Homo sapiens: one gene and its partners. The protein of the gene in region 7 purifies or fractionates together with the protein of the main gene of each other region. This does not show direct contact. Each region holds a gene or a part of one and is shown on either strand. Other genes may lie near its edges.

Region 1 (3,500 bases), on a different chromosome or scaffold from region 7:
AGGTCTTCCTGCTAGTCTTTAGCATCTGCCAGCTGCCATGCAGATGACTGGTGTCGTCAAACAGGAATGACAGATTGGTGGCAAGTGGGCACAAGAGTTAAAAAATGGTGACAACTTAGACCAGCTGCTCATCTAGCTGGGTGTAGAGCTCACTTTAAATGGAAATGGCAATTTTACAGGTCAAGTGTGTTGTGTATGAATTTCTTTGCGGTCCTACTGCCTCCCAGACACCAGCGTGGGCTCCTTTCTGAGCCACATGTTTAGCAGCATGCCTGGGACCCTGGGAGAAGGCGGCAAACGGGCTATTCCATGGAGGACAGATCCTTGTTAAGGGGCTGTTCCGAGTGCACCTCTGGGAACTCTTTCATTTGGTTACTAAATTCCTTTCTGCTTTTCATGTAGAGAATAAAGCTCATTAGCTGTGTCTTTTAAGAAAGCCAAGTGCTTCACATGAGATACTTATTAAAATATTCTCAAATCCATTCTAATTCTGTTCTTGTGAAGAATCAGTTTCATTCCACACCCCATCCAGCATCTGGCAGAAGAGGTGCCCTATCCCAGTCAGGGAAGAGAGAGTTGTTGGGATGGTTTCATTGCCCTCTCTCTGCTCAGAACCCAGGTATTGTCTTACTGGGGTTCAACACCTGGTTCTTGTACCATGGAGCCCTTTGTCCTAAGCCCTTGTCCATTACACAGCACCATCTACACTACCAAGAATTTCTCATAGAAGTGTAGTGCAGTGTGTGTGTATATAATGCAGAGGGGATCATAGTTCTGAGGTCAAGCAAATTTAGTATATTTAATAAAGTTAAATCAGGCTCCTTTACTAGGTAAATGTTCTGTGGACTGTGGGTCTTCGAGAAGAGGTATGGTGGGCAAGTTTCCCAAATTTGCTGACCCAGAATCTGTCCTGTTGTTTCATTTTGTTTTTGGACCAGTAGAACACACACTGGGAAGGCAGGTAACACAAAATAGCCAGATCATCAAATGCGAGATCCATATAATGCAAAATCAAGACAGCGTAAAATTTGGGATCCTTCTCCAATCTGTGTTTTACACCAATTAAATGTATTTATTTAGTAAGGCACTTAAGTGCTGGGTGAAATATAAAGGGGTGTAGTTCAAAACTAAACTCCCACTGTCAGGAAGCTCAAAGCCCAGTGATGGAGGGGGCCACGAAGATCTGGACAGAGCAAACTAATAATGAGATAGGCTGTGATGGCAATCAGGATAGAGGCCCAAACAAAGCACTGGGATTGGAAAAGGGAGAGAATCCATTCTGTTGAAAGGAGCAGGAATACTTTTGAGAAAGAGGCAAGTGAAATGGACTCCAGTGGATGCTTGGAATATCAAAAGAGAGAGATGGAGTAAGGATGGTAAAGGAAGAAATAGGAGCAGGGTGGGCCCTCCAGGCTCAATAAACAGTCAAAGAGAAATGGAAAAGCAACACTATTACCAGAAGGTAGTAAATGGTTCAGTTTAGCTAGGACAGTTAGAAGAAGTAGAGTTCAAAAGTGGCTAGAAGGATACTGGGGAGGGCCCTGCGTGTCAGGTTGGATCTGCAGTTAAGAAACAGGCAGCCATGTCAGTGCTTGAGCAAAGAGGAGACGGTGCCATCCTCAAGCGGGTGCCAGGTACATGGCAGTTTCTGATAATCTTCTGAAATTATCCTTTGTTGAGTGCACAAAACCACCCTACGGAATAGATGGCCTATCTTTTTCAGTTTAGAGCTGGATTGGGAGCACCCATGAATGCAGTTGGAAGGCATCATGGGAGACAATGGGCCTGGGAATGAGCAATTACTGCCCAATTACTCTGAAAGCATTTGTAAAATCCTAGTTATAAGAGGATAATATGGAACAAGTCTACTGATTGCATTCACCCAACATGATAGGAAATACACACATAATATGTGTACATACATAATTATATATGTCTGCGTATATGTATATCTACATACACAGACACATATATAATCAGAGACTACCAAGGCTCCACAAACCACAGCATCTGTCTATAATGCTCAACTTCATAAAGAGGAGTTAAAGTGTTACAGTGGTCTCGATAAACCAGAGATTCTGACAGGTGGTGGAAGATAGGGCTTAATAAACAAGGTGATATTGCTGGCAAAGTTATATCCTGAAGACTTGGCCAAAAACAGATTTAGAACTGTTGAAGTTGTGGTTGAGTGGGGAAGGAACTGCTGATATTGAGCCATTGCAGCCATGGAGCTGTTGCAACTGCTGAACATGAGCCAGCGCAGCTAGATAACAGGCATCGCTCAAAGTCTGTACTCTGGGTGATGCACACACACTAAAATGTGGGGTCCTCGGGGAGCCTCACCTTGAGCTGTAGAATGAATGGAGATGTTACAAGGTTGGCTTAAAATAAAGGCCTTTATTTGTTTGCTTTGTTTTGGGCACTAACCTGACTTGGATAAAAAGCACAAAAGTGAAGCCTCTGAAAATCAGGAGGAAAGCTTCATCCTGGTTGATGTCCATAAATGCTCCCTTTTCCCCATGCTGCACAGCAAAGTACTGTGGTCCCTTCTTTCCTGGATGACACCTGCCCTTCTCAACAAGGTTCCACAAGAATACGAAGCCCCAATGCTTCCAACGTATAGAATGATTTGCTTCTATCCCTCCTATCTAGAATGTTCCATCCTTGGGAGAATTCACAAAGACTCCCTTGAACTTTTTCCTAGAGGGCCTAATTTACTCTCCCACGAGCCCCAGTTGAGATGGGCTCCCTTCATTACTAAGCCACCTTCCCCCACAGCAAGCCTTCCATCCCATACCTGCAAGGAAGGAGCAGGCAATGTAGTGAGGTGTCTGAAGCTGCTAAGCCCTTTCACTTCATAACCAAATAAAAGCTCCATCAGGAGATATTTTTTAAAAAATGTCTGGAGGTGCAGACTTGCTTGGGATGCTCAGTTGTATTTCTGCGCATGTTTGAAAATCAGTCAATATTTTTTAGTTGGAGACCCAACCAATATAGAAGGAGAAACAGCAGTTTTCACTTGACTTAGGGGGAAATTTACTGCTGAAAAGTTAAGTCTGAATGAGCAACACCAAGAAAACCTGGAACAGCCTATTTATCTCGATGTCTAAAACTGTCCAGAGGGCAGAGATACATGGTCATATCTTTAATCAAAATGCCCTAGGATTCAATGAGTGTCTCGTGGTGAGAAAAAGCAACTGAACTAGTAAAAAAAGAGAACGACATTTCAATTGCCTGATCTTCCTTTTCCTGAAACACCATCACTTAGAAGGTCACGGCTCCCAACAGGCTTCATTAACATTCAAAACGCCTCTGCTTATCTGAATAACTTCCAGGTGCCCTACTGCAATCAGACAATTGACATTTCACGGTAATCAATATCAGGCTTCAAAGAGGTCGAGGACTATAAGTGAACATGAGAGTCAGAAATCAAGAGGCTCAGTCTCGGAGAAGGAGAGAGACAAGAGAAGGAAAGACAGAGGGGTCAGAATCCTGACCTT
Region 2 (2,596 bases), on a different chromosome or scaffold from region 7:
TAGCAGTTAAAATTTTAATCTGAAAATAACCTTTGAATCTCGGGCTAGGTTACGTCCATATTTGAAGTGGTCAGTGATGGTTTGAACATTTTTTGCAGGATGAGTGAAAATGCACTGGATTATATTTGGGATTTTTGTTTTTGGAATTGTCTGTTTTAATCACAGCCTTAATTCACAATTGGCAAAGGCAGTTTACTCAAAGGACTGGGCTAAATATTCTGTAATTATGCATTTTTGATAGGAAAATGAAATTTTTGCAAACAGACATTTTCTTTTTTTTTGGCTGGAGTGCAGTGGGGCATGGTCTTGGCTCACTGCAGCGTTGACCACCTGGGCTCAAGTGATACTCCCGCCTCAGCCACCCAAGTAGCTGGCACTACGGGCACACGCCACCATGCCCAGCTAATTTTTTTGTATTTTTAGTAGAGATGGGGTTTTGCCATGCTGCCCAGGCTGGTCTCAACTCCTCAGCTCAAGCAATCTGCCTGCGTGAGCCTCCCAAAGTGGTGGAATTACAGGCGTGGGCCACTGCGCCTGGCCCAGACAGACATTTTCTGAAACACAACTGGCAATGAGCTGTTTTTACATTTTGAAAGTGATTCTTCACTTCCTAGTTCTTAATTATAGTATACCTATTAAGATCTGTAAGATCCTGAAGACATAAGATCATGAAGCCATATAAGAATGAGGATTGAAAGTTGAGCAAAATTTTCGGGATTTTGGGAAACATTCTTAGCTGTGCTATCTGCCTAAAATTATTCCTTATTACTTCTCTCCTTTGACAGACTTCAAGTTTTCTTCATAGCCCTTTCAAAGTTTTTTGAGCCATCCAGAGTAAAATCATTTCTAAATGATAGTTCTGTATATCTCCAACTCGTCTTAAGTGTATTTGCCTGTGTGCAACGTATTGCTAGACTATGAACTCCTCAGCATGGCTGCTGGATAACTTAATTGTCCTGAGTTAATAGCCTTCAAAGGACAAATCGGTTTCTTTGCAGATAGCTTCGTAAAACTTCACATGGAGTTTATTTTATCATATTTCCCTTTTTTATTTCTGCTCCTCCTTTAATTGCCCATCTTGCTTCAGAGACTGACATTTCAGGGTGGATATTAATTAAAGCATTAATTTTGTTTTTTGGTATATTTCTATCCCTAGTATTTCTATCTTACTGCTAAAATACAGGAAAAGTGCCGTATTTTTAATGCATTTAGTGGTTTTCTTTGGTGTTATCTGTTCCATTTTTCTTTTTCATACATTGAAGTGTGTCTCCTTTTCAACCAAAATAATGAAATAGTGGAGACCATGAAATTGTTGTGCCTGGCTAATTGGCAAATTAATTTACCAATATAATAAGTGTAGCGCCTTGTTTGAATACCCTTTTTGAGAAGGTATGATGAGAATGGGCAAGGGTGTCAGCATCTCTTCTTCTTAATAATTAATTGTTTTCAGTTTTGGTTCACGAAGAATGCTTAGTTAATCTGTAATGTTGCCTAGAGCTGTATTTATCTGTTTTTATTTATACTAGTGTAGTAAAGCTGCATATCATTACAGTAAAAACGACTACTGTGATGAGTTAATCAGAAAATCTATTAAAATCTATATGACAATGTGTGGTTTGGCCTTTAATTATATCTGTAACAGTCCTCCCTCTTCACTGCTGCCCTACGCAGTGTAGGCCGATATGCCTGGCACAGGGAGCCCCAAAAAGGTAATAATTATAATGCTTCTCTCAGGTTACAAAGCATTTCTACACTTTGCAAGCAAGGAGCAATAGAAGAGTAGATAGATGCTGGATTGACAGCAGGATGTTCATACCACCAGCAATGGTTTAGCGCCCCCATTTGTCAGTGAAAGCTGCAGGTCCACAGAAAACTGATTTCATTTCAGCTCACTTTCAAAAGTGATTTTTTTTTTTTTCGCAAGAAAAATTACGCTATTTGCATGAAAAGAGGTAAAACGATTTATTTACATGTCTTTAAAAAATCACCTTGGACATTTGCTAATAGAACTGCCAAAAGAGGGTGGTAAGTAACAACCTTTGATTAAGATGTGGTCTTTTACTATTAAGCTTTTAGTAAAAAGGAACACACTAAAAGTTCAGAGTAGATCATTTATATTCACTGAGTATTTACTGAGCAATTACTGGGCGCCAGGCGCTATTCTATGTTCTTGAAGTTTTCATTCCAGCAGGAAGAGAAATCTAGAGTATGTCAGATGGTGATAAATATGGATTAGTTCAGCAATTTTAAAAAAGGATTTTTATGTACTGCACACTGTTACGAATATACAAAATCAGTCAAGAATCCTGTTATAGTTTTTGTAATGTACAAAAAGTGAAGGTGTGTGCACCCACCCCATTTTTATAGAGGGTGATCAGGGAAAGCCTCAGGGATAAGGAAGCATTTGAGCAGAAACCTACAGAAAGTTAGAGAAGGACATTTATCCGTGAGAAAAAATGTTGTAAGAAGAGAAAATGCTATATACAAAGGATTCTCCTGCCAGGTTCAAGGAACACTGAGTAGATCACTGTGGCTGGAGAGGGATAAGAGGGAAGAAAGTGGTAAGGAAAGAGGTTGGGGGTGTAGGCATTTGATT
Region 3 (3,500 bases), on a different chromosome or scaffold from region 7:
AGCCATGTTAGTGTCACTGCACTCCAGCCTGGGTGACAGAGTGAGATGCTGTCTCAAAAAAAAAAAAAAGAAAAAGAACCTTTTCCTATCTTATTAATTTGTTTATACACCAAACGTGTATTTAATGTGCCTCCTGTTTGTATCAGATCAGGGGATTCAGTGATGAACAAACCAGTGTGAGAGTGTATAGTCTGGTGGAAAAGATAGATTTTATTCAAGTAATTTCATGCATATGTAATCAAATAATTGCATACATAGGTATTTAGCTTGGGCGAGTATTAAGGAGAAGAGCGTCAGTTATGGTAGGTTTAGCAGAGGATTTGATCAGTTAGGAGTTTAGAGTGTCAAGGAGGCCTCTCTGGGGAAAGTGAATCATGAGCTGGGATACAAATGATGCATGGGCTGTAACTGGGTGAAGCTAGGTAGACGTGTCCTAGAGAGAGGAACAGTATATGCAAAGGCCCTGGGGTGGGGGAGAACATCATGTTCAGGGACTGAAGGAGGCGGGTGTGGTGAGACATAGAACGAGGCTGAGGGGCTCAAGCTGAGTCTGGCAGGAGGCTAGTTTTCCTAAGGGCTGGAAGAACGTGGTAACAAGGTTGGCTTTTGCAAAGCAACAGGAAGCGATTGAAAGTTTTCTCAAGGCATTGGTGTCATCTGATCTGCACCCTGGCCACTGTGTGGAAGATGCATTGTAGAAGTAAAGGTAGGTTTGCAGCAGAAGCCACTTAGGAGGCTACTGCAGAGGGCCAAGGGAGAGGTGAGGATGCCAGGAGGGCACAGAGTGGACAGATGTTTTGTTTGCCTAGTTGGCAGGGCTTGGTGATACATTGGGGGAGCAGGGAGAGAGAGGGTTTGGATAGGCCAGGAATTTCCTGGAAAGTGGAGTGAGTCATTTGGCTTTGAAGACTCAAGTACTGTTCAGAGCTAGACTGGGGTGACAGGAGTTTTGGATCAGCAGACAACACACTTATGCTTTAATCTCTTCTGTCCTGCCTCATTGTCTAAGCAGCCGCCATAGAGAATATGCCAAAATATCCAGTCCTCAGCAGTGCATGGCTGAAACCTGGGATCCTAGAATCCCAGGGCTGGAATCTCTCCCACCCCCCAGACCTCCTGGCTGCTGACCAGTGGCTCACAGGGCCTTGTACTGTGGTGCAAGGAGATCTCGATCCTTTTGTCCAGTTTCTCTACTTGGAACTGCAGGCAGGTAGGTTTGGCTTTGTGCTGCTGCCATTCCTCCCTGGTCTTGAGGGGATTTCAGTCCAGACTTTTCTCTCCAGCTGGTCTCATGGTCTGGCTTCATCCTACCCTTGGAGGGCGGGGGCTTTGGTAGCAGTTGTGAGCAGCCTGGGTTGATGCGTGTTTTTTGAGGGAATAAACACGTATTTTATGCTTTTGAAATGCGGAGTGTGTTGCAGCCATACGTAGGAGGGATTACAGTAAATCAGTGTATTAGTTTTCTATTGCTGCTATAACAAGTTACCACTAACATACTGGCTTAAAACCACGGATTTGGGCCAGGTGCAGTGGCTCATGCCTGTAATCCCAGTACTTTGGGAGGCCGAGGCGGGCAGATAACATGAAGCTGGGAGTTTGAGACCAGCCTGGCCAACATGGCGAAACTGTGTCTCTACTGAAATACAAAAATTAGCCAGGCATGGTGGTGCATGCCTGTAATCCCAGCTACTTGAAAGGCTGAGGCACAAGAATCACTTGAACCTGGGAGGTGGAGATTGTAGTAAGCTGAGATCGTGCCACTGCACTCCAGCCTGAGTGACAGAGAGAGACTCTGTCTCCAAAAAACAACAACAACAACAACAACAACAACAAGCCAAACCAACCACAGATTTGTTATTTATTTATTTATTTATTTTGAGATGGAGTTTCATTCTTGTTGCCCAGGCTGGAGTGTAATGGCGTGATCTCGGTTCACTGCAACCTCCACCTCCCAGGTTCAAGCAATTCTGCCTCAGCCTCCCCAGTAGCTGGGATTACAGGCACGTGCCACCACGCCCGGCTAATTTTTGTTTTTAGTAGAGACAGGGTTTCACCATGTTGGCCAGGCTGGTCTCGAACTCCTGACCTCAGGCGATCCATCTGCCTCGGCCTCCTAAAGTGCTGGGATTATAGGTGTGAGCCATTGCACCCAGCTGGATTTGTTATTTCATAGTTCTGTAAGTTAGATGTCTGACACTGATCTCACTGAGCCGAAATCCCCTTGGTGGCAGGACTGTTTTTCTTTCTGGAGGCTCTGGGGAGAATCCATTTCCTTTCCTTGTCCAGCCCCTTGGGGCCACCCACATTCCCTGGCTCATGGCCCTCTCCCTCCATGGTCAAAGCGATCGATGCCACATCCCTCCTTGCCTTTCATCCATAGTCAAATCTCCCTCTGACTCTACTTCTGTCCCGCTTTTCCACGTTTAAGGTTCCTTGTGATTTCATGGGGCCCACCCGGATGATTCAGGATAGTCTCCCTATTAAAGGCCAGCTAATGAGCCCCCTTACTTCCACCCTTTGCCATGGAAGGCAGTATATTTGCAGGCTCTGGGGATTAGGGTGTGGACATCTTTGGGGCCATTGTTCTGCCTACTGTGACCAGTTATTTCTTACTTAGACTCTCTGAGCCTACTGGGAATTTAACTTATTCAGCTGAGCATTCTTTGCAATGCTTAAATAAAGGTCCACTGCATCACCCCCCTCAATGTAGTTTTTCAGTCTCTGTTTAAATATTCCTTGTGTTGGGGAACATTTTTTTGTGGGGACAAAAAATGCCTATTTTTTATGGGGACAGCTTTTGCTCTTGGAAAATTCTTCCTTATATGGTCTCACATTGTGGTCCTAGGAGCCTCCTCCCTCTGGCCTTAATTCTGCCTCCTGGGGGCTTCCCAGTCAAATCCAGTCCTTCTCTCAAGAGGATTTGAGGATGGCCACCGTGTCCCTCCTTGTTGCGAGGAGGTTCTCATGGCCAGAGGTGTGATGCCGCCAGGCTTCGGGCTCACCCCACGAGCCTGGTATGGTTATCACTCAGCCAGATGAAGCTTCTGGTCTGCTTCCAGAGCTCCACAATGGCCAGGTCCTCACTGTTCTCCGGATTGACAATACCTGTGCACCCATCTCCTTCGACCTGGGAGCCGCAGAAGAGCAACTGCAAACTTGGGGCATCCAGGTGAGTGCTGATTTCCTTGAATCCCTACCATTTTCTCTTTCATCCATTCATCCCTCTATCTTTTCATCCAGTTTTTCACAAAATCTTTATGAAACAGTCTGTACCAGCTGTCGTAGGGTATATAAGGAAGGTATATTAGAAGTGCCCTCTCTTTCCTCTCTTCCCGGTTAACTCACTTAACAAATGTGTATTTTTTTGGGTGCCCACTCTGTGCCAGGCACTTAACTGGCTAAACATAATAGGGGTGGACAGGACACAGTACCTATGTCCACAGATCCCAGCGGGGAAGATGGACGTGTGTGGGAGAAATTGGGACAGTATCATATAAATG
Region 4 (3,500 bases), on a different chromosome or scaffold from region 7:
TTCTAAGGGAATGACAATAGAGCAAGCTCTAAGAGGGCATGTCAGGATGCTCTTTCTAGCTCTCAAGCAAGAAGTGAATAGAGAGTTAATTTCCTCACAACCATGTGTGAGGCTCAGCTGAGTGGCCCGCATGAAGAATGCTGCACAGCAGCCATAAACTCTAACCTTTTCAAAATTCCTCTTGGCCCCCTGAAGACCCGCCAGCTGGCTTGGCTTTGCTGAATTGCCTCATCCCGGGCCATTGAGGAGGCCCTCAGGAGTCCGAAGCCCAATCATAAACAAAGCTGGGGGAGGCAGCCCCAGCTCATCCCTCCAGGACTAGCTGCCCATTGAAAACTCGGCCTGACCTGCTGCTGCCATGCATATGAATGATGGGGTGCAGAGCCTCTGAGATTCGCTGCTTAGAGCCTCCACAGAACCCATGCAAAGGTTAGCCCTTGCCCTCGTGTGTTCCTAGTCCCTACCCTGCCAAAGCACAGCACAAGGTGGAAAGTAGGAAGTGATGGATGGATAGGTAGGAGATACTGGAATTTTCTGTCTGGTGCTGAAGAAAGTTGCAACTCCTCCATCCGCATTTATTTGCATGGCACTTCTTCCAAATCAGACATTTGCCTCTTTCCAGAATGCTGTCATCAATAAAGAGACTCAATGAGAGGCCCCCTACAGGAGCTGCGGATAAAGGCATCGCTGCAGGCTCAGATCAGTGTATTGACATCACCTAGTTATATTTCAGTGTGAGCCCCAGAGGACACTTCCTGACAGTAAACACCCAGTTTATCGAGTATTTCTGGTTGGTTGTGTTTTTTATGCTTAGAGTGTCTATTATCCTCCTCAAAAATCCTGCTTCCTTTTCTTCTTTTAAAATCTGAACATAACGAGTGAAATCAATTCTAATTGTCCAGCACTTTCATTCATTGCGTGAATGTGCATGAGCTCGTGCTTCGTGGGTCCATGGGTCTGGGTTGCAGTGCTCCCGGGACCCATCTGTGGTGCTGCCCTGGCAAATGGTGGCTGGTTAAAGCACAAGGACCCTTTTAATATGACTCCACCTAGAGGCATTAAGAGATAGGGTGGCTGTAATCCTCTTATGAGCTCCTGTTCCTGCTCCTGCTGCCATCCAAGCTCGCACCAGGATGCGAATGTGTGCCGCATTTAATCAGGATGCCTCCATGCGTCCCAAGAAAGCAGACGCAAGAGCTCAGGAGAGAAACAAGGCCATCCACACCACAAAGGAGCCAGAAGCCTTCCAAATGTCAATGCACTGCTGCATTTTTCCAAACTTGTTGCCGGAGCGGCCTTTAACATCCCCAACGGCCTGCTGTGATCCACCAGCTAAAAACATCGATTGTTAATTGTCCGACCACTACAGAGCAGCTCGTTTTAATATAGTCATGACATGAATGAGACCCAAGCTCCCCTTTGCCCCTCCCCTGAGGCACCTTGGATCTTGGAGGGAGAAGGGGGCACTTCGTTGGCTGTGGTACAATAGGGGCTAGTGTTGAGGTCAGCAACAAATAAGGGGTAACATTGTTTTCCCTGCTGGCAATCAGCAAGGCTTCCTTAAGGATTGAAATAACTTACATTTCTGGAGTGAGCAGCTGAGTAATTGAGAAAGAAGACTCTGTTCCTCTTTTCAAGAGAATCCCTCTCTCTCTCTCTCTCTCTCTCTCATACACACACACACACACACACACACACACACACACACACACTTCTCTGTACCTCCACCCCACTCCCCAATTCCTCAATTGCTGCTCTCACTCTAATAATTATGTAGAGCAAGCCAGCTGTGCCTCCCTAATTTATGAGGGCTTGAAACGTGCATGTGAAGAGTATGTTGCTTCAAGGGCCACTCCAGTAGCAACAAAAACCTCAAGAGCAGGGGGATTTGGGGCCAAACATTTAAATAACCCATGTGACAGAGGCCACAAAGAAAGGCATCTTCTTCTTAGTGCTACAGTTCTCTTTTACATACAGGCTCTGAAGATTGCTCAAAAAACTTCACAAGCCCCAACGGGACCATCGAATCTCCTGGGTTTCCTGAGAAGTATCCACACAACTTGGACTGCACCTTTACCATCCTGGCCAAACCCAAGATGGAGATCATCCTGCAGTTCCTGATCTTTGACCTGGAGCATGACCCTTTGCAGGTGGGAGAGGGGGACTGCAAGTACGATTGGCTGGACATCTGGGATGGCATTCCACATGGTGAGTGATGTCATGAGGCATTCCTCAGTAGCTTGGCCTTTGCCTGTTAATTGCTTTAGTGATGATAAAGAGGAAGAACAAAGACTTCAAAGCTCCTATGAGTTCTTATATGACCCATGGTGACTTTCTCTTCTTCCCCTTCACTAAGGATAGCTTGAGAGAAATTACAGGAAGGCTGTCTACTTTCTTGGAAATATTTCTTTAGAAAAGGATAGGAGACTAAATAGATACTTGGAAAGGATGAGAAAACTTAAAGTGTTCATTTCTACTCCAAATTGTCAGGATAGAAGGTGGCTCAGTGGCTAACCCCTGTGACAAAACAGAAGGACTCCAGAGCCAGACTGGCCGGGCTTAACTCCCGGCTCTGCTACTCCCCAGCTGTGCAACCTTAGACAAATCCCTTACCCTATCTGTGCCTTATCTGTGTTAAGTTAGCTGCTATCATCATCATTATTACTATAATTTTAAAATTGTCATTAATATAGTCATAAATATTGAAAAGGTACATCACCCAAGGCTAACAGCCACCAGTACTTCGCAGGTGAAGACCAACATGGATCTTGGGTCTAATTAGTATTGGAGAGGAACAAATCTTTCACTTTTGTAGTCATTGTAAGTTTTTTCTAATATAAAGGAGACTTGATGACTAAGCAAAAAGAGCAATTTCATTTCCTGGGTAAATCACAAGACTTAGTCAGAAAACTTGGGTTGTAGGCCCAGCTCTGCTATTTCCTAGCAGTAAGAATAAAGAAATCACATGCGCTCTCCAAACTTCAGTTTCTTCCTCTGTAGAACAGACATTGTAATGATACCTTTCCAGCTCATCTTCCAGGCCACTGAGAACAGAATGAAGCCAGTGAAAGTGGCCTGTACCTTTTTAATGAAAAAGTGAAAGTGCTTTTTGATGTGCAGGAAAAATATTAGCCATTGTTCTTGAAACATATCTTTGGTTTTTATGGCAAGATGTACAAAGTGTGCTCCACTGAATGAAATGCAATGAGGGGAAGGGAAAACGGAGTGAAAACCAAGTTTGACATTTTGATTTCCACTGACTTCTCTTTGTCTTGAATGTCCAGTTGGCCCCCTGATTGGCAAGTACTGTGGGACCAAAACACCCTCTGAACTTCGTTCATCGACGGGGATCCTCTCCCTGACCTTTCACACGGACATGGCGGTGGCCAAGGATGGCTTCTCTGCGCGTTACTACCTGGTCCACCAAGAGCCACTAGAGAGTGAGTTGGCCGATTGGGAACCTCTGTCCTGTCCTTCCGTCAGGGCTGTGAGGGTGTACA
Region 5 (3,500 bases), on a different chromosome or scaffold from region 7:
GCTTTCCACTGTTACCATTAGTTCTTAGAGGTGCAGGGACTATAGCAACTACTTAATCTTTTTTGAAATTATTTGAAACTGAACAATGCAACTGTTTCTAAATATAAACAAATATTACCTTTGAGCCACAAATCACTTTCTGGAATTATTGTGGGAGATAATATTTGATACTTCTATGTGAGGAAATTGGTAGACAAAAAATTAAGCCATGTTGTCCACATATACAACTCTCAGTGATTATTGTAAACAGTATGGTAGCATTTAAAATATTTAACAATTTAATATTTTTTGGTGTTCGATACTGATTCCTGTGCTTTCGTTTAATAATTTGTAAACTGTTTTTGTTGTTGTTGTTGTTTTTTAAAGGAGAAAGTGTTCCAGTGACAAAGACTAATTTGCCAAATCCTTCAGTGGATGTGAAAGGAATAGGAGATGAATTATATAATCCAGAAACACATAAACGACATACTTTGTTTTGTGGGACAACTGTTATTCAGACTCGTTTCTACACTGGAGAACTCGTCAAAGCCATAGTTGTTAGAACAGGTAGGAAACATCTTAATTAATCTCTTTTTGCATGTTTCAGCATATTTGATACCTACTAAATGTTTAAAAAGAGATTCTGGGCTGGGTGCTGTGGCTAACGCCTGTAATCCCAGCACTTTGGGAAGCCGAGGTGGGCGGATCATGAGGTCAGGAGATTGAGACCATCCTGGCTAACATGGTGAAACCCCGTCTCTACCAAAATTACAAAAAAATTAGCCGGGCCTGGTGGCGGGCGCCTGCAGTCCCAGCTACTCGGGAGGCTGAGGCAGGAGAATGGCGTGAACCCAGGAGGCGGAGCTTGCAGTGAGTCGAGATCACACCACTGTACTCCAGCCTGGGTGACAGAGCGAGACTCTGTCTCAAAAAAAAAAAAAGAGAGATTCTGTTTTGGGAGATAATTCTCATTTTCTTATAAAAATATCAATAATTGTCTTCTTTTTTTGAAAGGATTTAGTACTTCCAAAGGACAGCTTGTTCGTTCCATATTGTATCCCAAACCAACTGATTTTAAACTCTACAGAGATGCCTACTTGTTTCTACTATGTCTTGTGGCAGTTGCTGGCATTGGGTTTATCTACACTATTATTAATAGCATTTTAAATGAGGTATGTATGTGGGACTCTTAATAGGGTTTGAACCTCAATTATTTATCATATGCAGCTATTGAGGATTTGAAATGTGGCTACTGAGAATGAGGAACTAAAATTTTAAGCTAATTTAATTTTAATTAATTTAATGCTAACAAAGTCATGAGACTAGTAGCTATGATATTAGAAAGCCCAGCTATAGAACATTTCCATTGTAAAGGATACTTCTTTTGGGTGCCTCTGGTTTAGATGGTCTTTTACTTGGTCTTGTGACTTTAAAAAAAAAAAACAGGAAAAAAAACCCCCCCACATAATCACCAAAAGCTTTATTTTCTCTTTTTTACCTCTGAGATGTAATATACAGTGTTAAAATGATTTGTGGTTAGTTAATTGAAGGCGCCGCTTGTCAGAAGTGGAGAGTGGTACAGTAAGGTGTGTGCACGCTGAGTCAATATCTGATAATGATTGTTGACCGGCTTTGAAGTGTGTCATGTGTGAAGTATGTAGCGCCTTGAAAATGAGATAAGTTTCTTTTGAAAGTAGCTGTCATTCTATAATCCATTGAGCTTTTTTATTTTGCAGAAATATCTGAAGAAAAAAATTATATATGGTTAATAGATATGTATATACACACACATACATAAAATTGAAATATACAATTGAAAATGGCTTACAGATTTTCACTAAAGAAATACCCATATTAAATCCGTAAATAATACTGGGGATTTGACATTTATTTTTGTGTTAATTGTAGGTACAAGTTGGGGTCATAATTATCGAGTCTCTTGATATTATCACAATTACTGTGCCCCCTGCACTTCCTGCTGCAATGACTGCTGGTATTGTGTATGCTCAGAGAAGACTGAAAAAAATCGGTATTTTCTGTATCAGTCCTCAAAGAATAAATATTTGTGGACAGCTCAATCTTGTTTGCTTTGACAAGGTGGGTTCAGTTTCATAGTTACTTTCAAAGGTTACTTCGTAGCGTTTAAATATTTAGATCAATGTTTTTTATTTTCTTTGTCAACAAATTTGGACACATTCTGTCATGTTCCTCTAATTTTCCTTTTCCTCCACTTATTTGGTATATGCATCATTTTTCTATACCATAAGTTCTCACTTAACATTACTGATAGGTTCTTGAAAACTGCAACTTTAAATGAAATGAAACCAGTTTTACCATAGGCTAATTGATACAAATGAGATTTAAGTTCCTATGCCATATTTTGGTCACAAAAAATCACCAAACTTCTAAATAAAGATCTAAAACACTTCTGATATTAATCATTGAAATAAATATGAGCTATACATTCATTTAAGAAAGAAATAAAAACAAGTAAGGTAATTATTTACCCAGTTGTTTTATTTCAGGCTCCTGGGTAGTGGGAGCGTATCTCAGCAACTGGCGGAACGAGGCAGGAACCAGCCCTAGACAGGATGCCATCGTATCGCAGGGTGTACTCACACTCGCGCAGACTGGGACCATTTAAATGTGCTGGTTCACTTAACTTGCGTAGCTTTGATGTGGGAGGAAACTGAAGTACCTGGAGTGAAACCCATGCAGACAGGGAGAGAACATGCAAACTCCATGTAGATAGTGGTCGCGGCTGGGCCTCAGCTCTCCCCACCACTGGCACCCATCGTGTTATAAAAAAAGACGGACAAAACAATCGTATTTGAGGACATGCTATATTTCTTATTTTCTCAATTTTTAATACTTTGGATATTGCTTATTTGCTCAAAGCTTCAGTTAACTCCAGAATTAGGCCTAGTAGTATTAATAGTAGTAGCAGTAAAGATTACGTGACCTTTAATTTTTTAGACAGTAATTCTTATTTAACACAATAGGCTCCATACATATATATTTATTATGATTTTATTGCTTGTAAGTGTGTATGTTTAGTGTTTGCTGTATGATTTTATTGAATATGTTTAAGAATTATGAAGGTCACTGATTTTATGTGAAAATGACAAATTATGTACCTGTGTGAAGTATATCTTGCCTCTTAGAAAGGTTTCTCCTTTCCTGAGCTGGAATTTTCTTTAAAGTTTTCTGAGAATTAAACTTTGACCAGAAAACCTTCTATCAAACTTTTCTGGGTAACTGATGTGATACAAATTTGATTTTTGTGCATTTCATTATTACAGAAAAAAATGGGAAACATGTTCTGTTAGAAAAAAATATGTCACATACTGCTACAATTATTTCATATTTATCAGTTCAAAAAATTTCACTTATGCTTGTCTTTTTTGGAAACTTTCCTAAAAGTTTTAAGACAAAAGTGGAGAAAAGATGTGTGTATAATAAACACTCATTTACTCATTACCCAGCTTTATCAGTTATCAACACATTGTCAGTCTTATTTT
Region 6 (3,500 bases), on a different chromosome or scaffold from region 7:
CAGATCATGAGGTCAGAGTTCAAAACCAGCCTGGCCAATATGGTGAAACCCCTTCTCTACTAAAAATACAAAAATTACCCCAGGCGTGGTGGTGGGCGCCTGTAATTCCAGTTACTCAGGAGGCTGAGGCTGGAGAATTGCTTGAACCTGGGAGGCGGAGGTTACAGTGAGCCAAGATCGTGCCACTGCACTCCAGCTTGGGCGACTGAGTGAGACTCCATCTCAAAAACAAAGAAAAAAATACATATATGGGAGAATGTGCACAGGTTATATACAAATACGACACCATTTTATATCAGGAACTTAAGCATCCACTAATTTTGGTATCCATGGTGGGTTCTGGAACCAATCCCTAGTGGATACCGCAGAATGACTGTATTGAACAAAATAATGGCTGAAAATTTTCCAGAATTGCTGAAAGACATGATACTTTATCTTCAGAAAGTACAATGAATCCAAAACAGGATAAACAAAAAGAAATCCATGCTAGAAAGACCACAGTCAAGTTGAAAAACACCAGAAATAAAGAGACTATAAAAGCAGCCAGACAAAAAGCTTACTACTGACACAGGAAGGACAATTGAAATGACAGCTGGCTTCCTAACCGCAACTTTATAAGCCAGAAGATACATAATAGAATTCAATCCTTAAAGAAATGCCAGAGACTCAGTGCTATACAGACTATATCCCTCTGCCCATGAGGCTTTTCAGCTGAAATCATAATAAAAACAACCTAAAATCCTCAATGCCTTTGGACATAAATGCATTCATGGGTCATGGAAGAATAATAAAATTGTAAAATGCTGAACAATGAAAATATTACATATCAAAATAAACAAGACGACAGTACAGCAGAACTAAGTAGGAAAGCTACATAGACTTAAATGCTTATGACAGGACCGGGCGTGGTGGCTCATGCCTGTAATCCCAGCACTCGGGGAAGCCGAGGTGGGCGGATTGCCTGAGGTCAGGAGTTCAAGACCAGCCTGGCCAACATGGTGAAACCCTGTCTCTACTAAAAATACAATAGTTAGCCAGGCATGGTGGCACACGCCTATAATCCCAGCTACTCAGGTGGCTGAGGCAGGAGAACCACTTGAATCCGGGAGGCGGAGGTTGCAGTGAGCCGAGATCACGCCAGCCTGCGTGACAGAGGGAGACTCTGTCTCAAAAAATAATAATAAAATACTTATGACAGAAAGTTGAAAATTAAGAAACTAAGCTTAGAGAAAATAGAAAAGAAAATGTTTCAATTCAGTAACCTAGAAAGAGAACACCAGAATAAACCCAAAGAGTGTAGAAGGAAATCCTGACAATGAGCAGAAATTAGTGATACGGAAACAAAGACACAGTGGAGAAAATGAGTAAGACTGATAGCTGGTTCTTTGTGAACACTAATAAAAAAGATGAGCCTCTGTGAGATGAATCTAGAAAAGAAAGGTAAAACCATTTTAGGAATGAAAAGGGTGATTTACTGTCAGATATAGTAGAGATTTAAAAATTAAGAAAATATTCTGACCTTTGTATCAAGAAACTGACAACTTGGGCTGGGCGCAGTGGCTCACGCCTGTAATCCCAGCATTTTAGAAGGCCAAGGTGGGAGGATCACCTGAGGTCAGGAGTTCGAGACCAGCCTGGCCAACATGGTGAAACCCCGTCTCTACTGAAAATGCAAAAATTAGCCAGGCGTGGTGGTGCGCGCCTGTAATCCCAGCTACTCGGGAGGCTGAGGCAGGAGAATCGCTTGAACCCGGGAGGCAGAGGATGCAGAAGCCCTGTGTTCTCCTTCCAGGTACTAGAGCCGGAGTCCTCAGGGCACATGGGTTTTGCTGGTGCGCGTGCTTTACCTTGATGAAGTCAGGTGCTGCATACACTTCTGCGGCTCACTCCTTCCACCCAGCGTTATCCTCCGGAGGCGCACACATGTTGCGGCCTGGAGGAGCTCCTTCCTTCCCCTTTCCATGGCGAATGTAGCACGAGGTTATTTTTCATTTTATTTGGAGACAGGCATTGAGAGAGCTCCCGGGGTCTGACTCCAACACCCATGCCACTATGAGCACCTCAGCATGTCCCCCGGGAAGCACACGGCAGGTGCACCCGCCACTCGATGCCATCTCCCTGCAGCTCCTGCCATTCCCAAAGCAGCCACGCTGGCACCAGTGCTCTGTCTGCCCCCACATCTTCTCCAGCACTTGTCCCCACAGTCTTTTAAGTTTCGCCGTCCCGGCAGGGGGAGGCCGCAGCTCTCTGTGGTTTTGTTTCTGCGTCTTCCCGGTGACCCATGACAGTGGATCTTCCATCTCTCCAGCTCCTTGCTTTTGGGTCACTTTGTTTGTATTTCTCACACCAGGCCTCCTCTGCTTCAAGGAGGCAGAGTGGGACGATTCAGAACTAAACGGCCACTGTTTGTACCCACACCGGAAGGCAGCATGGTAGAAGCATTTCCCTAAAATCAGGAACAGGACAAGGATGGCCTGTCACACTTCCATACAGCCCTGCTCAGGAGGGCCTGGCCCAGGCAGCAAAACAGGAAGGAAAAATACGAAAGATATAAGGAAGAAACAGAGTCTTCACCACTCCCACATGACGTGAATGTCTACTGAGAAAATCCCCAAAATCTACAAATAAATTTTAAGCAATGGCAAGGTGATCAGCTGTTAAATCAATACCCAAAAGTCAACTGCATTTCTACAGAACACCAGCAAAGACTTAGAAATCAATAAAAATAAAAAACACCATTTACGGCCGGCGCGGTGGCTCACGCCTGTAATTCCAACACTTTGGGAGGCCGAGGTGGGTGGATCACTTGAGGTCAGGAGTTCGAGACCAGCCTGGCCAACATGGTGAAACCCTGTCTCTACTAAAAATACAAAAATTAGCTAGGCATGGTGGCGTATGCCTGTAATCTCAGCTACTCGGGAGGCTGAAGCAGGAAAATCACTTGAACCCGGGAGGCAGAGGTTGCAGTGAACTGAGATCCTGCCACTGCACTCCAGCCTGGGTGACAGAGCAAGATTTTGTCTCAAAAGAAAAAAAAAAAAAAACACCATTTACAAAAGCAAGAACAATAATAAGGGCACCTGGGAATAAATGTAAGCACAGAGTGTCAGGTGGAATGTGAAATACCACGGTGCTTTATCAAAAGACACCTCGGAAGACCTGCACAGTCAACTCTAGAGAGATAAAGGGCTTAAGCAGAGAAAGCAAACTTTACAACTTCTACAGAAAAATACAGAATACATTTGTGACCCAAGAATTGGGAAGAACTTAAAGTAACATGCAAAAGGCACTACCTAGAAAAGAAGGATGGATAAAATTATACATTACATTAAAACTATCTTTTCACCAAAACAAAAAAAGTGAAAAGATAAAACCCAACTGGGAAAAATATATAATGCACACATTACAGCCAAAGATGAACATCCTGAATCTATAAGGAAATATATAATATGGAAACTATATATAAGGAATAGGTGAGAAAAAGACATCACCCAAAAGAA
Region 7 (2,983 bases):
GTGGCTCACACCTATAAATCCCAGCACTTTGGGAAGCTGAGGCAGGCTGATCACTTGAACTCAGAAGTTCAAGACCAGCCCGAGCAACATGGTTAAACCCCATCTCTACTAAAAATACAAAAATTAGCCAGGTGTGGTGATGCGGGCCTGTAATCCCAGCTACTCAGGAGGCGGAGGCAGGAGAATTGCTTGAACCCAGGAGGCGGAGGTTGCAGTGAGCCGAGATCATGCCACTGCATTCCAGCAGGGACAGAGTGAGACTCTGTCTCAAAGAAAAAAAAAAAAAAAAGCGGAATTGTGATAGAGAAAGAGTAATTCACACAGAGCTGGCTCTGCAGGGGACTGGAGTTTTATTATTACTCAAATCAGTCTCCCTGAGCACTTGGGGAGCAGAGTTTTTAAGGACAACTTGGTGGGTGGAGGGGAAGCCAGTGAGCCAGCAGTGCTGATTGGTCAGAGATGAAATCAAAGCTGTCTTCTTGCGGAGAGTCAGTTCCTGGGTGGGGGCCACAAGATCAGTTGAGCCAGTTTATCGACCTGGGTGGTGCCAGCTGATCCATCAAGTGCAGGATCTGCAAAATATCTCAAGCACTGATCTTGGGAGCAATTTAGGGAGGGTCAGAATCTTGTAGCCTCCAGCTGCATGACTCCTAAACCATAATTTCTAATCTTGTGGCTAATGTTAGTTCTACAAAGGCAATCTAATCCCCAGACAAGAAGGAGGTCTGCTTTGGGAAAGGGCTGTTATCGTCCTTGTTCCAAACTATAAACTATAAACTATAAACTAAATTTCCCCCAAAGTTAGTTCACCCTATGTCCTGGAATGAACAAGGACAGCTTGGAGGTTAGAAGCAAGATGGAGTTGGTTAAGTTAGATCTCTTTCGCTGTCTCAGTCATAATTTTGCAAAGGTGGTTTCAATTTTCCAGGGGAGCAATGAGGCTCAGAGAGGGGAAGCAACCTGCCCTGCATCTCACAGCTAGAAAGCAGTGGTGCCGAGAATTAAACAGAGTCTGGACGTTTCCATGACATAGGGAAGAGATGACTTCCAGCTGAAGGTGGCAATCAGGGAGCAGCTTGCTCATAAAATTCAGGTAGGATTTGGACCCATAAAGATAGGGAAAAGCATGAAAAGACCAGCATGAACAAAGGCAGAAAAGCAAGGTGTAGGTGGTGGTGCATGGATCTAATAATCGTGATGGCAATAACAATAGCAGAATAATTATTACTATCAACATTTATAATTTATTAAATTCTTACTTTGTGTCAGGACCTGCACAAAGCACTTAAGGTGAGTGATCTTATTTAAACCTCAATACATTATTATTAATGCCTTTCTGCAGATGGAGTAACCATGGCTTGGACAGATGAAGGAGGCGCTCTCAGATGTCCTCCCAGGCAGGAATCACTAGACACCCCCATGCTCCTAACCACTGGGTCTTCTTTCCTCTCTTCCCCAACTAGGGGTGGCCGTCATGCTGGGGCTAAACCACACCTCCATGTCTGAATTCATCCTCGTCGGCTTCTCTGCCTTCCCCCACCTCCAACTGATGCTCTTCCTGCTGTTCCTGCTGATGTACCTGTTCACGCTGCTGGGCAACCTGCTCATCATGGCCACCGTCTGGAGCGAGCGCAGCCTCCACACGCCCATGTACCTCTTCCTGTGCGTCCTCTCAGTCTCCGAGATCCTCTACACCGTGGCCATCATCCCGCGCATGCTGGCCGACCTGCTGTCCACCCAGCGCTCCATCGCCTTCCTGGCCTGTGCCAGTCAGATGTTCTTCTCCTTCAGCTTCGGCTTCACCCACTCCTTCCTGCTCACCGTCATGGGCTACGACCGCTACGTGGCCATCTGCCACCCCCTGCGCTACAACGTGCTCATGAGCCCACGGGGCTGCGCCTGCCTGGTGGGCTGCTCCTGGGCTGGTGGCTCGGTCATGGGGATGGTGGTGACCTCGGCCATTTTCCAACTGACTTTCTGTGGATCCCATGAGATCCAGCATTTTTTATGTCATGTGCCACCTCTGTTGAAGTTGGCCTGTGGAAATAATGTACCAGCTGTGGCCCTGGGCGTGGGCTTGGTATGTATCATGGCACTGCTGGGCTGTTTTCTCCTCATCCTCCTCTCCTATGCCTTCATCGTGGCCGACATCTTGAAGATCCCTTCTGCTGAAGGTCGGAACAAGGCCTTCTCCACCTGTGCCTCTCACCTTATTGTGGTCATTGTGCACTATGGCTTTGCCTCTGTCATCTACCTCAAGCCCAAAGGTCCCCACTCTCAGGAGGGTGACACCCTGATGGCCACCACCTACGCAGTCCTCACGCCCTTCCTCAGCCCCATCATCTTCAGCCTCAGGAACAAAGAACTGAAGGTTGCCATGAAGAGGACCTTCCTCAGCACACTCTATTCCTCAGGCACCTGAGTAGCTGGTGTGGAAGTGCTGATAGAATATGATAGGAGGATGACCATCACCTTGTCTGCACAGTGTGGCTAGTAATGCTTACCTTGTAAGGCAGGTGTAAAGATTTCTGTATATGACAACACTCATCACATAGTAGGTGCTCAGTAAATGTTAAAAGCATGTTTACTTCCACAACTCTTGATCTGTATGTCTTTATCTGAGTTTTAATTTTTGAGTTATAGTAGCTTTATTAAGATGTAATTCACCTACCATACAATGTACCCATTAGAGCGCACATTTCTGTGGTTTTTGCGTATTCAGAGTTATGCAACCATCATGACAATCTGGCTTAGAGTATTTTAGTCATCCAAAAAAGAAACCCAAATCCTAGTGCTTTGGAAGGCTGAGTGGGAGAATTGTTTGATGTCAGGAATTCACGATCGGTCTGGACAACATAGTGAGATGCCATCTACACACACACACAAACACATACACACACACAAGTTCTTTTTTTTTTAATTTATTACACTTTAAGTTTTAGGGTACATATGCACTACGTACAGGTTAGTTACATACATATAC

What was found.
Region 1: the proteins of OR10H2 (region 7) and ST7 purify together in Homo sapiens (affinity purification with mass spectrometry; one large-scale study listed by BioGRID and IntAct). This does not show direct contact.
Region 2: the proteins of OR10H2 (region 7) and CLCN3 purify together in Homo sapiens (affinity purification with mass spectrometry; one large-scale study listed by BioGRID and IntAct). This does not show direct contact.
Region 3: the proteins of OR10H2 (region 7) and TMEM268 purify together in Homo sapiens (affinity purification with mass spectrometry; one large-scale study listed by BioGRID and IntAct). This does not show direct contact.
Region 4: the proteins of OR10H2 (region 7) and NRP2 purify together in Homo sapiens (affinity purification with mass spectrometry; one large-scale study listed by BioGRID and IntAct). This does not show direct contact.
Region 5: the proteins of OR10H2 (region 7) and ATP13A3 purify together in Homo sapiens (affinity purification with mass spectrometry; one large-scale study listed by BioGRID and IntAct). This does not show direct contact.
Region 6: the proteins of OR10H2 (region 7) and AGPAT3 purify together in Homo sapiens (affinity purification with mass spectrometry; one large-scale study listed by BioGRID and IntAct). This does not show direct contact.

Annotation. Positions count from the first base shown.
Region 1 is NC_000007.14:117,226,001-117,229,500, reverse strand, and holds part of ST7 (suppressor of tumorigenicity 7 protein), read right to left. Parts: intron 1-3,500. UniProt on the Homo sapiens protein: May act as a tumor suppressor.
Region 2 is NC_000004.12:169,721,578-169,724,173, forward strand, and holds the end of CLCN3 (H(+)/Cl(-) exchange transporter 3), read left to right. Parts: 3' UTR 1-2,096; downstream 2,097-2,596.
Region 3 is NC_000009.12:114,621,291-114,624,790, forward strand, and holds part of TMEM268 (transmembrane protein 268), read left to right. Parts: intron 1-1,012; coding exon of another isoform or gene 1,013-1,210; intron 1,211-2,845; exon of another isoform or gene 2,846-3,016; coding exon of another isoform or gene 3,017-3,059; coding exon 3,060-3,169; intron 3,170-3,500. UniProt on the Homo sapiens protein: Stabilizes cell surface expression of ITGAM and participates in the adhesion and migration of phagocytes during bacterial clearance.
Region 4 is NC_000002.12:205,720,501-205,724,000, forward strand, and holds part of NRP2 (neuropilin-2 isoform 2 precursor), read left to right. Parts: intron 1-1,977; coding exon 1,978-2,208; intron 2,209-3,284; coding exon 3,285-3,440; intron 3,441-3,500.
Region 5 is NC_000003.12:194,445,503-194,449,002, reverse strand, and holds part of ATP13A3 (polyamine-transporting ATPase 13A3), read left to right. Parts: intron 1-366; coding exon 367-546; intron 547-993; coding exon 994-1,151; intron 1,152-1,887; coding exon 1,888-2,076; intron 2,077-3,500. UniProt on the Homo sapiens protein: ATP-driven pump involved in endocytosis-dependent polyamine transport. Uses ATP as an energy source to transfer polyamine precursor putrescine from the endosomal compartment to the cytosol.
Region 6 is NC_000021.9:43,871,723-43,875,222, reverse strand, and holds part of AGPAT3 (1-acyl-sn-glycerol-3-phosphate acyltransferase gamma), read right to left. Parts: intron 1-3,500. UniProt on the Homo sapiens protein: Converts 1-acyl-sn-glycerol-3-phosphate (lysophosphatidic acid or LPA) into 1,2-diacyl-sn-glycerol-3-phosphate (phosphatidic acid or PA) by incorporating an acyl moiety at the sn-2 position of the glycerol backbone.
Region 7 is NC_000019.10:15,726,570-15,729,552, forward strand, and holds OR10H2 (olfactory receptor 10H2), read left to right. Parts: upstream 1-1,454; 5' UTR 1,455-1,474; coding exon 1,475-2,422; 3' UTR 2,423-2,483; downstream 2,484-2,983. UniProt on the Homo sapiens protein: Odorant receptor.